4 linked regions of the Homo sapiens genome follow. Changing the gene in region 1 together with any one later gene gives a genetic interaction. Each region holds a gene or a part of one and is shown in the gene's direction. Other genes may lie near its edges.

Region 1 (3,500 bases):
GGCCCTTCAGAGAACCAGTTTTTGCCCTCTTTGGGGCCATGCTGCCCTCATTGAGAATGCATGTGTGTATTGATATTTAGAGGAGGAGAGGGAAACAGCTTTGCTATGCATGAATAGTTACTTGGGTTTCATAGGACTCAGAAGAGGTTAGTGTTTCTGTTGCTTTGTCAGATTGTCCAGAAGGGAACATAAGGATTAAGTTGCCACAATTACTCCACCAGTCTTATCACCCAACTCTAAACATGGTATCTTGGAGTCCCTAAGTTACCTAGAATATACTAGGTATAGTAATACCATTTTTGAGAACGTTGATATGCCAAGGGTATAGTGACATTATTGTAGTTGAAGGCATTTTGTTGAATTTAGGGAACAGTAGCTCTAATGCATTAGGAGTAATTGTAAATGTTCAAACCTTTATCCTTGTGGTTCTCAAACAGTGATGATTCTGCTTCCAGGGGACATTTGCAATTTCTGGGAGCATTTTTGGTGGCCACAACTGGGTGTATGAGTGTTCCTAGTGGAACACTCATCTAGAGGGTGGAGTCCTAGGATGCTGCTAAACGTCCTGCAGTGCAAAGGACCAAGTCCTTTGCAAAGAATTATCTAGTCCAAAATATCAGCACTGCTGAGATTGAGAAACCCTGCTCTGTCTTAGTGATTGTACTTCTTGGAATCTAGCTTTAGAAAGTAATCCAAGTAATGTTGCTAGGATTTTGATGTATGTATATTTTTTTAAGTGGGACATATATTTGTATATATAATTATAAAAAAATGAGAAACAAGCTTAATTCTTTCAGTCTTAAGAAGAACACATGTCAGGACTTACAGTAATTTCAGCAATACTGAAGAATTGGAAACCATTTTAGAGAAAATTAACTCACCCATTTCAGCAATTTTTTTTTTTTTTTTCTGTGACGGAATCTTGCTCTGTCGCCCAGGCTGGAATGCAGTGGCTCAATCTCAGCTCACTGCAAGCTCCGCCTCCCGGGTTCAAGCAATGTGATTCTCCTGCCTCGGCCTCCCGAGTAGCTGGGACTACAGGCACATGCCACCACACCTGACTAATTTTTTGTGTTTTTAGTAGAGACGGGGTTTCACCATGTGAGCCAGGATGGTCTCGATCTCCTGACCTCATGATCTGCCCACCTTGGCCTCCCAAAGTGCTGGGATTAGAGGCGTGAGCCACCTTGCCTGGCCTAGCAATTTTTTCTTTTTTTTGAAACAGGGTCTCATTGTGTCACCCAGGTGAAGTGCAGTGACGCAGTCGCAGTTCACTGCAGCCTTAATCTCCTGGGCTCAGGTGATTCTCCCACTTCAACCTCCAGAGTAGCTGGGACTATAGGCATACGCCACCATGCCTGGCTCATTTTTGTATTTTTTGTAGAGATGGGGTATCATCATGTTGCCTAGGCTGATCTCAAACTCCTGGGCTCAAACGATGCGCCCACCTTGGCCTCCCAAATTGCTGGGATTATACAGGCTTTAGCCACTGCGCCCATCCCCAGCAGTTCTTTATACAACACCCTTCAACTTCTGTTTGCCCACCTTGGGTTAAAGTACATATAAAGAATCATCTACTGTTATCAATAGCCCTTTATTTCTTAGAAGAAATAAAAGTACCTCAAAAATACGGCAATTTGTAAATGAGTTAAATCTGAATATGGGTGCATTGAGTGTTCTTTACATTATTCTGTTTTTCTTTGTTTTTGAAATATTGGAAGATCACATTTTAAAAGTTAGTGTACTTTTCAGATTTGTTCATGTGTGAGCTGAGGCCAAATATAGAAATATTTTTATCAATAATTTGGCAATGTATAGCAATGAATGACTTTGTTATAAGTAGAGCTAGTTAACTACAACAAATAAAATGATTTCCGAGGGCTTTTCTCTCTGTGTTTGGAATGTTAAGTGCTTTCTGAATGTATTCAGGGTGTATTAAATGTTAAAAGGCGAATGGTTTTTGAAATTACTCAAGCAAGAATTGGGGTGATTGAGTATGGTTTACAATTCCATAAGATGGCAAGTTGGTAATCCTTTTTTTCCCTAAGTTAACCTGAAAAAACATACATTTAGGAAGAAACTATATTATGCATTAAGATGAACAAAATGAGGCCGGGTGCGGTGGCTCATGCCTGTAATCCCAGCACTTTGGGAGGCCGAGCCAGGTGGATCACGAGGTCAGGAGATCGAGACCATCCTGGCGAACGTAGTGAAACCCTGTGTCTACTAAAAATACCAAAAAAAAAAAAAAAAAATTAGCCGGGCGTGGTGGCGAGCACCTGTAGTCCCAGCTATTCAGGAGAGAGGCAGGAGAATGGTGTGAATCCGGGAGGCGGAGCTTGCAGTGAACCGAGATCATGCCACTGCACTCTAGCCTGGGCAACAGAGCGAAACTCCGTCTCAAAAAAAAAAAAAAAGATGAACAAAATCTGTTTATTTCTTATTAAAAAAAAAAAGTCAGCCTTGTGATAATGCTATTATGGTATTCCTATTTCACAGATAATGAATATTGCAAAATGTTTTATTTTGGAAGAATTATTTATTTAAAACTAGTAACTGTTGCTTTTGCATTCAAATTTTTAAATGTTTTTTCCTCTGAGATTTTAGACATCTGTCCTTTAGATTAGTAAAGGGTACTTTTCAACTTTGTTCTCAATAAAATTATGTTCTTTGTCTTCTGACAGAAATTCTACTAAATCATATAGATGTTTGGTGAAAGATAGATTGTATTAAAAGAAAATTATTTTAGATTTTGGGGTCCTACTGCTATGGGATAGATTTTAAGGAGATATCGGTAGTCATTAACTTGCTCTAATGGATTGTTAGAAATTTCTTCTAAGTAAGGAAAACATTGTGTAAAATCATCATGTAGTGAAGACATTTAAATTTCTGTATTGGATTCAATATTTTGAGCATTAGAATTTTTAAAGAAGGAATCATGTCAATGTCTCTAAATTTAGATATATTAAATATAGTCATTTTTCTAAAATCAGACATTTAGTGAGTTATTGCTGTTGATGCTATGTCAAACCAAAGTTTAGACCTGAAAGCAAAAAGACTGTAGCTCAAAGTGCATTCTGCTTAGCAACCAGCTTGTTGTCTCCTGTTTTGCTACTGAATGCACGTACTCATGCCTCAGAAGTGTATCTCCAGCCAGCTGGACTCAACCGGACAATACTTCATTCACCTAATTTCCAGACTAGTCAAGCAAAGACATCAGCTCATTGTATTTAGTCATGAGGAAATTTATTTGTAAACTTCAAATAGTAGCACACTGCTCCCAAAAGCCCCTGAACTATGAGAAATTGCTTTCTGATTCAGAAATGTGAAGTCCTTGGAATTTAGAACTGCTTCCCTTTTTTTTCTTTCTTAATAACCCTTGCAAGAGAAATTAGCTCTTAATAGAAAATATATGTTAAAGTCTAAGAATAATTTTGGAATTATCTTAAAGTGAAAATTTAGAAAGTTCAATTTGCATCCAGACTTTTATTATCTACCTT
Region 2 (3,500 bases), on another chromosome or scaffold:
CACTGTAGAGAAAGAAAAAAAAAAGAAATCACTGTAGAGGATTTGTGCCCTTGATTGATTACCTTAGTTTCACTATTGAGTGTGAGGATGTAATATATTTGACTTTCAAAAATATTTTCAACAACTGATTTATAATAAAACTTTGTATATGTGTATGGCAGTATTATAAGGATGATATGCTATAATTAAAATGCTATGTAATTGAATACCTACAAATACAATGAAGTACTGATTCATCATTTTTATGTTACTTGGAGACATTGTTATAATTCATCAAAAAAGATTATATCATCTGCATCAGAGTGTTTAAAATGGCATAACTCCTTTTTTTTTGTTTGAGACAGAGTTTCACTCTGTTGCACTGGCTGGAGTGCAGTGGCTCACTGCAACCTCTGCCTCCCAGGTTCAAGCAATTCTCCTGCCTCAGGCTCCCAAGTTGCTGGGATTACAGGCATGTGCTGCCACCATGCCTGGCTAATTTTTATATTTTTAGTTGAGACAGGGTTTTTGCCATGTTGGCCAGGCTGGTCTCAAACTCCTGACCTCAGGTGATCTGCGCACCTCAGCCTCCCAAAGTGTTGGGATTACAGGCGTGAGCCACTGCGCCCGGCCTGGCGTAACTCCTTTAGCTGCATCATTAATCAAAGGTTTCATTCAAATGCCCTCAGCTATAAGATCAGATGATTTCATTGTCTCTACCCATTTTCATAGGTATAGCTAAACTTGTAGCAGTAAGCAATGGCAGGGGTTAATAGAAGTATGTATTTGTTGGCCAGGCGTGGTGGCTCACGCCTGTAATCCCAGCACTTTGAGAAGCTGAGGTGGGTGGGTCACCTGAGGTCAGGAGTTCGAGACCAGCCTGGCCAACATGGTAAATAAAACCCCATCTCTATTAACAACACAAAAATTACCCAACCTTGGTGGCATGAGCCTGTAATCCCAGCTACTCGGGATGCTGAGGCAGGAGAATTGCTTGAACCCGGGAGGTGGAGGTTGCAGTGAGCCAAGATTGTGACATTGCACACAGCAGTGGTGACATTGCTTGCCTGGGTGACAAGAGTGAAACTCCATCTCAAAAAAAAAAAAAAAAAAAGAACTATGTATTTGTTACACTTTTAAAACTATGTCTAGTGCTTAAGTTCATAGTATTAATAGAGTCTGTTTTCTGACAGGAAATATTCTATACAGCATATCCAACTAAGCAGCATGTTGATAACAATAGTCCCCAGCTATTTATGGAGATGTATTCTAAGCTCCCCCCTCCAAGAATGTTTGAAACAGAGGATAGTACTGAATCCTATACTGTATATGCTGTTTTTTCCTAAACATACATATCTATAATAAAGCTTAGCTTATAAATTAGGTACAGTAGGATATCAACAACAGTCATAATATAACAGTTATAACACTATGCCAGCAGGGCCGGGTGTGGTGGCTTACGCCTGTAATCCCAGCACTTTGGGAAGCTGAGGAGGGTGGATCACGAGGTCAGGAGTTCAAGATCAGCCTGGCCAAGATGGTGAAACCCCATCTCTACTAAAAATACAAAAAAAAATTAGCTGGGTGTAGTGGTGGGTGCCTGTAATCCCAGCTACTCGGAGGCTGAGGCAGAGAATTGCTTAAACCCGGGAGGCGGAGGATGCAGTGAGCCAAGATCGCGCCACTGCACTCCAGCCTGCGCAACAGAGCGAAACTCTATCTCAAAAAAAAAAAAAAATGCAAGCATAACTATTTTTGTGCATTGGTTACTTGAATATAAGCACTGCAGTACTGCACAACGGAGAGGGCTACGAAAGTGACTAATGGGTAGATAGAGATGATTCATGTCCTGGGGGGAGCTGAGTGGGATAGCAAGAGATTTAAAACTTAGGAACTATTTATTTCTGGAATTTCCTTTTTAATATTTTCAGACTGCAGTTAACCACAGGTAATTTACCACACAAAGTGAAAGCACAGGTAGGGGACTATTAATAGATACTTGTAGGAATATCTCTTCCTAATAAATGTGTTTATTTGTAGGCTTTTTCATATCTAAAGCAATAGAATATTTGATACAATCTCAGAAAGCAGGGACCAGATTAGTGTTCGTGTGTGTGACATTTATGTCACTCCTGTAGTATACTAATGGAATTTAGAATAGTACTGCCATCTCTCAGGTGAATAGAAACATTGAACTTAATAAGCTTAGCCTTCAGTTTGTCCTAGGCATTCATTGCAAACCTGCTTGTGCTAATGAAGGAATTACAAATGAAACATCAAGATTTTTAGGGAATTCTGGATTATAGAATTCTATATTATATGTGATTTTTATTTATTATGGTGGCTGTAATAATTCTATAGGTCTTTTGTTTCAGTACGTGGAACATTCATATATTTGGAGGTGCATTCTTTGTAACTTTTTTCTTTTGTAGGTTCTCTTTTAAATTTGGCCAAGCATGCAGCTTCTACCGTTCAGATTCTTGGAGCTGAAAAGGCACTTTTCAGAGCCCTCAAATCTAGACGGGATACCCCTAAGTATGGTCTCATTTATCATGCTTCACTCGTGGGCCAGACAAGTCCCAAACACAAAGGAAAGGTGTGTTATAGGGTTTTGCTTTGTTTTTGAGGTTAGACTTTTTCATTTTTTACAACCCATTTTTCTTCTACTCTGTAGTACACATTAAATCTTCTATTGTCTCTTTCTTGTTAAATAGGGAATGGTGAGTTATTTAAATAAAAAGTGCTTTGTGTACACTGAAGGATAAGGTTAGAAGAAACTGTTATTGGTTGGATTAAAGCCAGTTTCTTCCATTGTGTTAGTATTTTTTTCCCCCCTAGAATCTCCCTGTGGTTGGCACACTGAAAATACTATCTCTGGCAGCAAAAAAAAAATCTAACATTTACGAATCATAAAAAATAGCATATGCATTATGCTAAAACACTTTGAGAGAAGTCACTAAACTTTTTTTTTTTGAGATGGAGTCCCGCTCTGTCGCCAGGCTAGAGTGCAGTGGCTTGATCTCGGCTCACTGCAACCTCCAGCTCCCTGGTTCAAACGATTCTCCTGCCTCCCTGCCTCAGCCTTCTGAGTAGCTGGGATTACATGCACGTGCCACCACGCCCGGCTAATTTTTGTATTTTAAGTAAAGACCAGTTTCACCATGTTGGCCAGGCTGGTCTCAAACTCCTGACCTCCTGATCCACCCACCTCGGCTTCCCAGAGTGCTGGGATTACAGGTGTGAGCACCTGTGCCTGTCCTAAATCTTCAGTAGCCTTATGAGATGTAGGTATCTCTATCTTGCAGATGATGAAACTGAGGCTTAGACAAGTTAAGTACTTTCAATGTTTTTGAAAGATGTGTCGTTTAACAGATCTAAACTGAAAATTGATAAAATTTAGAGCAGAGTGGTGGAGGAAAATAAAGCGTTCAATAAAATAAAATGTTAATTAGATTGAAAAAGAACCCACGCTTTTTTTTGTTTGTTTGTTTGTTTGTTTGTTTGTTTTTTGAGATGGAGTC
Region 3 (3,500 bases), on another chromosome or scaffold:
TGGCTCCCTCCCTGCAACGGGGTGTCTGGAAAGTCCAATAGATCAGAATGCTTCTCATCTGCCCACAGGGCACATTGTTCTCAGTGATACCCAGGAGGGGCCTCGTTAGTGGAAAATGTGAATTGTCACTTTCAGAGAGGTGGGACTTGCCCCAGTGTCACACTGGGTGGACAGGGTTCCTGTCACTCACTCCGCACTGAACGAGGCTTTTTGATGTCTGGGCCTCTTGCACCTGAGCTGCCCAGCGTTGGCTCCCCTTGGGGGTGGAAAAGTGTGTCTGGCCAAGTCACTGGCACAGGCAGGTACGGAACAGCTCGGCTCCCACGCCAGCAAAGAGCTGCCTTGCATGCTGTGGAAGAGGAAGACAGCACCGGGGGCAGAAGAGAACATTTCCTGGAAAAACAGGCCATCCAAGGTGGCTGCCGCAGTGGAGGGAGAGGAGTTTTCAGAAAGGAGGGGCCCGTGAGCAGGGGCATGGAGGCAGGAAGTCAGGCCATGCCTCCCTCCTGATGCCTGCTCTCCAGCCGCCGAGGCCAGATGTCATTGTCATATGTTACGATCTCACCACATCCATGTTCCACCCACTTACTATGACTACTTTTTAATTTAAACTGCCTTTTAAAAACTTAACTGAAAGGGAAGATTAGCTCCTCGCTGAGCATGGCACATTAGTGTCACTGCCCTGGGCTTTGTTCTCAGCTTTTCTGGGCCCCACAGTCTGATCCTCTGACAGAGCTCATTGGCCTGGGTTTTCCTTGACTCTTTCACACGGCCACATCCTCCATTGTCACCAGCATGATCTTCTGTTGTTTTTTTTTTTAACTTTATGAATCTTGAGTTGTACGGGTAGCTTAGAAATGCCTCTGTCTAATAAGAAATCAAACACAGACATACAGCACGAGTGCCCTGTGATGACCCTTCGTTTAGTCCCTTCCTGGCGATGGCCTTGGTCGTCAGTCCAGTGGGTAACCTGCTGGGCCTTTTCCTGTGGGACTGTTTCATTGGTTCTGTTTTTGTTTCACACATGAATGTATCATATTGTCCATTTTTTCTTGCAGTTTTTTTTCCAGAATGATTTTCTAAGGCATGAATCTTTTGAAATTATTTATTTTAATACATAAAAACAGTAGTGAAAACAATAATACATACTCTTGCTTTAAAAAGTTTCACAGCACAAGCTGGGCGTGGTGGCTCACGCCTATAATCCCAGCACTTTGGGAAGCTGAGGTGGGCGGAACACTTGAGGTCAGGAGATCGAGACCAGCCTGGCCAACATGGTAAAACCCCATCTCTACTAAAAATACAAAAATTAGCTGGGTGTGGTGGTGCATGCCTGTAATCTCAACTCCTCGGGAGGCTAAGGCAGGAGAACTGCTTGAACCCGGGAGGTGGAGGTTGCAGTGAGCCAAGACTGTGCTACTGCACTCCAGCCAGGGCGAGAGCAAGACTCTGTCTCAAAAAAAAAAAAAAAAAAAAAAAAGTTTCACAGCATAAAAGGGACACAACGCTGGCCATGTCCTTCCACTGCTTCCAGTGCTCAGAGGCTTCCTGGTGCCACAGGAGAAAGGCCCTGCTGTCCCCGGCCACGGGCTCCTGTCCTCACCGCAGCCTCTCTGTCCTCCTCAGCTGAGCCCCCGGCAATAGTGTGGGTGCCCCCTCCTCAGACTGATGGACCTGGATGGTGGCCCCTGGGCTGTGAGCATCCTGCTGGCAGGGCCAGGGGAGGTGGGCGACAGAGAAGTCAAAGCCCCGGCCTTGTGGTGCAACTCTGGGCGAGTCAGTTCACCTCTCTGCGTCTCAGCCTCTTCCCCTGTGCCCAGAGAGCTGCTGGAGGGTGGATTCATGACGACAAAAGGTGCCCAGGACAGGGCCTCTCCATGCTGAGGGCTCGCTGCAAGCCACCCTTCTCACCCCGTTTGTTGTTATTCTTACTGTTCCAGCCCAGGACCCAGCACAAGCCTGGCATGTAAGTGAGGATAACCCGACATTGAATAAAAAGAGAAAGGAATAAAGCTCCACCTAAGATGTGTGGGGACATACAGGGACAGAGGCCTCTCGCGGGGCACTGGGGATGCGATAGAAGGGCTGAGATGGGATAGGATGTTTGTGCGGCGGGAGCTCACGCAGGCTCTGAGCACATCATTGAGTAATGCGCTGAAGGTGCTGATTGGGACTCTCATCAGGAGGCAGCGAGCAAAGACAGGAAGCCCGCGGCAGCCTCCGTGGTTGCAGATAGCATCTCCCTGGCCCTCCTGCCTCACAACGCCCTCCATCTGTTGTCTGTTTGTCTTCCAAGTACTCCAGGAAGAAAGAAGCCACGTGGCATTGGCGTTCACCCAAGAGGCTGCAGCCTCCACCCATGTCTGGGGTTGCTGTCCCCTGCGTTGAGATGGGATGGAATGATTCAAGCAAGCTACATTTTTTTGATGAGGCCCCCTGGTCACCCCCCTTTTTTTGGTCTGTTTATTTCCAGGCAATGCCACCGTAGATAAGTTGGAGGACTTCATCAACAACATTAACAGTGTCTTGGAGTCCTTGTATATTGAGATAAAGAGAGGAGTCACGGAAGATGATGGGAGACCCATTTATGCGTTGGTGAGTGCCCGGCAGAGCCCTCTAGTGGCATTTTTGAGGAGCTGGAACAGGGCCCAGGCAGCCTGTGTTTGCTTTGGTTTGATTTCTCTTTTGGACAGTTCTTTGCAAAGAAGTCACTCCAAATGTATAGAATATTAGGAATAAAGGGAGAAAATGGTTTTTTATTTAGAATAAGACATAGAAGCTATGAAAAGAAACTCTGTAGGAGTGTCAAGGATTGCAGGCCATGTGGGTGGGGCCTTCAGTGGTTTTCAGATTTACTCTCACAGGTAGGGATTTGGGCCTCATCCCTCCTGCCGCCGACTCCCCGTTCACCCACGTGATGTGTTCAGGATGCCACAGCCAGAATGGCAGAGCCAGGAGTGAAATACAGCCAGGGTGAAATACAGGAGTGGGAAGCTGACATGCCCCATCCCTGGCTAGGAGACACCTCAGCTGGTCAGAGGACATCTGGCTGCTCCCAGCCAGGCTCACACTCAGAAAGGGGCACTCTAGTCCAGGGTTGCCCAAACTCAATTCCCTGGAAAAAAAACATTACAGAGTCAAAGAACTGTGGAAATGCTGGTCAGACATGGCAAAGCAGATTTCCTTGCTATCAGACTTCTCAGTGCTTTTTTTGCATTTGAAGCTCCATTAACATGCAGACAAATCTCCCAAATTTATCTGAGTTTGGAAAATACTGCACACCCTTTGGAGTTCTGAAACTTCTGAGGGCCCAGCATGTTGGCTGAGCTAAAGAATAAAGTCTGTAATATACGCCTGGTTACAGATCCATCCCTGCGGCCCGCAGTGCCTGGATACAGGAGCTCAGTGACTGGCCAGAGATGGAGGAGGGGAGGGAGGGAGAGCCAGCGACACGTTAACCAACACGCAAAGAGCACAGCCTGACTGTCGTGCTGACTTAT
Region 4 (3,500 bases), on another chromosome or scaffold:
CTATCCATGACTTCTTCCTCCCCCAAAAAGGCCCGAGCAACTCCAGCCCCTAAAGGAATCCCAGCTTCCCCATCCCCCAAAGGGGCCCCCACACCCCCAGCTGCAACTCCTCCCTCCCCTAAAGGAGGCCCAGCTACCCCATCCCCGAAATGGGCCCCCACACCCCCAGCTGCAACTCCTCCCTCCCCAAAAGGAGGTCCAGCTACTCCATCCCCCAAAGGGGCCCCCACACCCCCAGCTGCAACTCCTCCCTCCCCCAAAGGAGGTCCAGCTACTCCATCCCCCAAAGGGGCCCCCACACCCCCAGCTGTGACTCCTCCCTCCCCCAAAGGAAGTCCAGCAGCTACCCCATTCCCCAAAGGGGCATCCACACCCCCAGCTGCAACTCCTCCCTCCCCCAAAGGAAGTCCAGCAGCTACCCCACTCCCCAAAGGGGCCCCCACAACCCCAGCTGCAACTCTTCCCTCCCCAAAAGGAGGTCCAGCTACCCCATCCCTCAAGGGGGCCCCCACTCCCCCAGCTGCGACTCCTCCCTCCCCAAAAGGAGGCCCAGCTACCCCATCCCCCAAAGGGGCCCCCATGCCCCCAGCTGCAACTCCTCCCTCCCCAAAAGGAGGTCTAGCTACCCCACCCCACAAAGGGGCACCCACAACCCCAGCTGCAACTCCTCCCTCCCCAAAAGGAGGTCTAGCTACCCCACCCCCAAAAGGGGCCCCCACAACCCCAGCTGCAACTCCTCCTTCCCCAAAAGGAGGTCTAGCTACCCCACCCCCAAAAGGGGCCCCCACAACCCCAGCTGCAACTCCTCCTTCCCCAAAAGGAGGTCTAGCTACCCCATCCCCCAAAGGGGCCCCCACAACCCCAGCTGCAACTCCTCCCTCCCCAAAAGGAGGTCTAGCTACCCCATCCCCCAAAGGGGCCCCCACAACCCCAGCTGCAACTCCTCCCTCCCCAAAAGGAGGTCTGGCTACCCCATCCCCCAAAGGGGCCCCCACAACCCCAGCTGCAACTCCTCCCTCCCCAAAAGGAGGCCCAGCTACCCCACCCCCCAAAGGGGCCCCCACTCCCCCAGCTGCAACTCCTCCCTCCCTAAAAGGAGGTCTAGCTACCCCACCCCACAAAGGGGCCCCCAATCCCGCAGTTGTAACTCCTCCCTCTCCAAAAGGAGGCCCAGCTACCTCACCCCCCAAAGGGGCCCCCACTCCTCCAGCTGCAACTCCTCCCTCCCCAAAAGGAAGCCCAGGTACCCCACCCCCCAAAGGGGCCCCCACTCCCCCAGCTGTAACTCCTCCCTCCCCTAAAGGGACCCCTACTCTCCCAGCTACAACTCCCTCCTCTAAAGGAGGCCCAACTACTCCATCCTCCAAAGAGGGCCCCACTCCCCCAGCTGCAACCCCCTCCCACAAAGGAGGTCCCGCTATGACTCCTCCCTCCCCCAAAAGAGGACCAGCTATCCCATCTCCCAAAGGGGACCCCACTTCCCCAGCAGTGATTCCTCTCTCCCCCAAAAAGGCTCCAGCAACTCCAGTCACCAGAGAAGGCGCAGCCACCCCATCCAAAGGAGATCTCACTCCCCCAGCAGTGACTCCTGTCTCCCTCAAAAAGGCCCCAGCAACTTCAGCCCCCAAAGGAGGCCCAGCTACCCCATCCTCCAAAGGGGATCCCACCCTCCCAGCAGTGACTCCTCCTTCCCCCAAGGAGCCCCCAGCCCCCAAACAAGTTGCCACTTCTTCCTCTCCCAAAAAGGCCCCAGCAACTCCAGCCCCCATGGGGGCCCCCACTCTGCCAGCTGTGATTCCTTCTTCCCCCAAAGAGGTCCCAGCTACCCCATCCTCCAGAAGGGACCCCATTGCCCCAACAGCGACTCTTCTCTCTAAAAAGACCCCAGCAACTCTAGCCCCCAAAGAGGCCCTCATTCCCCCAGCTATGACTGTTCCCTCCCCTAAAAAGACCCCAGCAATTCCAACCCCCAAAGAAGCCCCAGCTACCCCATCCTCCAAAGAGGCCTCCAGTCCCCCAGCAGTGACTCCTTCCACTTACAAAGGGGCCCCATCCCCCAAAGAGCTCCTCATTCCACCAGCTGTGACTTCTCCTTCCCCCAAAGAGGCACCTACTCCTCCAGCTGTGACTCCTCCATCCCCCGAAAAGGGCCCAGCAACTCCAGCCCCCAAAGGGACTCCCACTTCCCCACCTGTGACTCCTTCCTCCCTCAAAGACTCCCCTACTTCCCCAGCTTCTGTCACATGTAAAATGGGGGCCACTGTTCCTCAAGCATCTAAAGGGCTTCCAGCAAAGAAAGGCCCCACAGCTCTGAAAGAAGTACTTGTTGCCCCAGCTCCAGAAAGCACGCCAATCATCACAGCTCCCACTCGGAAAGGTCCACAGACCAAAAAGAGTTCTGCTACTTCACCTCCTATATGCCCAGATCCCTCAGCTAAGAATGGTTCTAAAGGACCCCTTTCCACAGTGGCTCCAGCCCCTCTACTCCCTGTTCAGAAAGACTCTTCAAAGACAGCAAAAGGCAAAGATGCTTCTCATTCCCCAAAGGGCCCCTTGGCTCCTCCTGAGTCTAAGGCGTCCACCCCTCTAACAGCAGCTGCCTTTGAGAAGGTCCTTCCTAAACCTGAATCAGCATCTGTCTCTGCAGCACCCTCCCCACCAGTCTCTCTGCCTCTTGCTCCCTCCCCAGTTCCCACTCTGCCTCCTAAACAGCAATTTCTGCCGTCCTCTCCTGGGCTGGTGTTGGAATCACCCTCTAAACCCCTTGCCCCTGCTGATGAGGATGAGCTGCTGCCTCTGATTCCCCCGGAACCAATCTCTGGGGGAGTGCCTTTCCAGTCGGTCCTCGTCAACATGCCCACCCCTAAATCTGCTGGAATCCCTGTCCCAACCCCCTCTGCCAAGCAACCTGTTACGAAGAACAACAAGGGTATTTGCCTTGGTTTGCCGTGTGCATGGTGTGTCTGTCGTCCACACCCCTCTTGGGCGCTACCCACCAATACTAACCCTGTGATGCGCCGCTTTCTCCAGTGAATCTGCTTGGGTTTGGATGTAGAACATAGAATGATAATTTTAAATGCAAAAGTTCTAGGAATATGAAACCAAATCTTGGTTTTCATTACTTCAGATAGATACATAGTACATTGTGTATCATTTTTGTGTAATGTGGCCCGGACTACCCTGAGCCTGCCATGCCATCTATTTTACCTAATTGATCTGACATTGAAAACCAAGACCTGCCAGACCTTTTCATTTGCTCTAATCCCTACCACATCACTAACTAACCTTGTCCCTGGGCCTGAGATTTGGTAAAATTATTGGAGAATTGAACTATTTGTATTTATTTTTCCATTATTAGACTTAGTAATGACCAGTTGCCCAGGGACTCCCTTTTCATAAAAATGTAGAAATCTGTTTTTCCTAGCCTGAAAATGGTGCAGGTGTATGCTTTTTTTCCTCAGTAGTCTTTACTGATGCTTGGCCTTTGAATTGAAAGAAAT

Evidence for each region.
Region 2: changes in ZNHIT6 (region 1) and NOP58 together harm fitness more than expected from each alone (negative genetic interaction), as found in Homo sapiens cells (one large-scale study listed by BioGRID).
Region 3: changes in ZNHIT6 (region 1) and NSMCE1 together harm fitness less than expected from each alone (positive genetic interaction), as found in Homo sapiens cells (one large-scale study listed by BioGRID).
Region 4: changes in ZNHIT6 (region 1) and NACA together harm fitness less than expected from each alone (positive genetic interaction), as found in Homo sapiens cells (one large-scale study listed by BioGRID).

The regions. Positions count from the first base shown.
Region 1 is NC_000001.11:85,680,934-85,684,433, reverse strand, and holds part of ZNHIT6 (box C/D snoRNA protein 1), read left to right. Parts: intron 1-3,500. UniProt on the Homo sapiens protein: Required for box C/D snoRNAs accumulation involved in snoRNA processing, snoRNA transport to the nucleolus and ribosome biogenesis.
Region 2 is NC_000002.12:202,293,263-202,296,762, forward strand, and holds part of NOP58 (nucleolar protein 58), read left to right. Parts: intron 1-2,411; coding exon 2,412-2,575; intron 2,576-3,500. UniProt on the Homo sapiens protein: Required for the biogenesis of box C/D snoRNAs such as U3, U8 and U14 snoRNAs. Part of the small subunit (SSU) processome, first precursor of the small eukaryotic ribosomal subunit.
Region 3 is NC_000016.10:27,234,273-27,237,772, reverse strand, and holds part of NSMCE1 (non-structural maintenance of chromosomes element 1 homolog), read left to right. Parts: intron 1-2,473; coding exon 2,474-2,595; intron 2,596-3,500. UniProt on the Homo sapiens protein: RING-type zinc finger-containing E3 ubiquitin ligase that assembles with melanoma antigen protein (MAGE) to catalyze the direct transfer of ubiquitin from E2 ubiquitin-conjugating enzyme to a specific substrate.
Region 4 is NC_000012.12:56,715,300-56,718,799, reverse strand, and holds part of NACA (nascent polypeptide-associated complex subunit alpha), read left to right. Parts: coding exon 1-2,929; intron 2,930-3,500. UniProt on the Homo sapiens protein: Cardiac- and muscle-specific transcription factor. May act to regulate the expression of genes involved in the development of myotubes.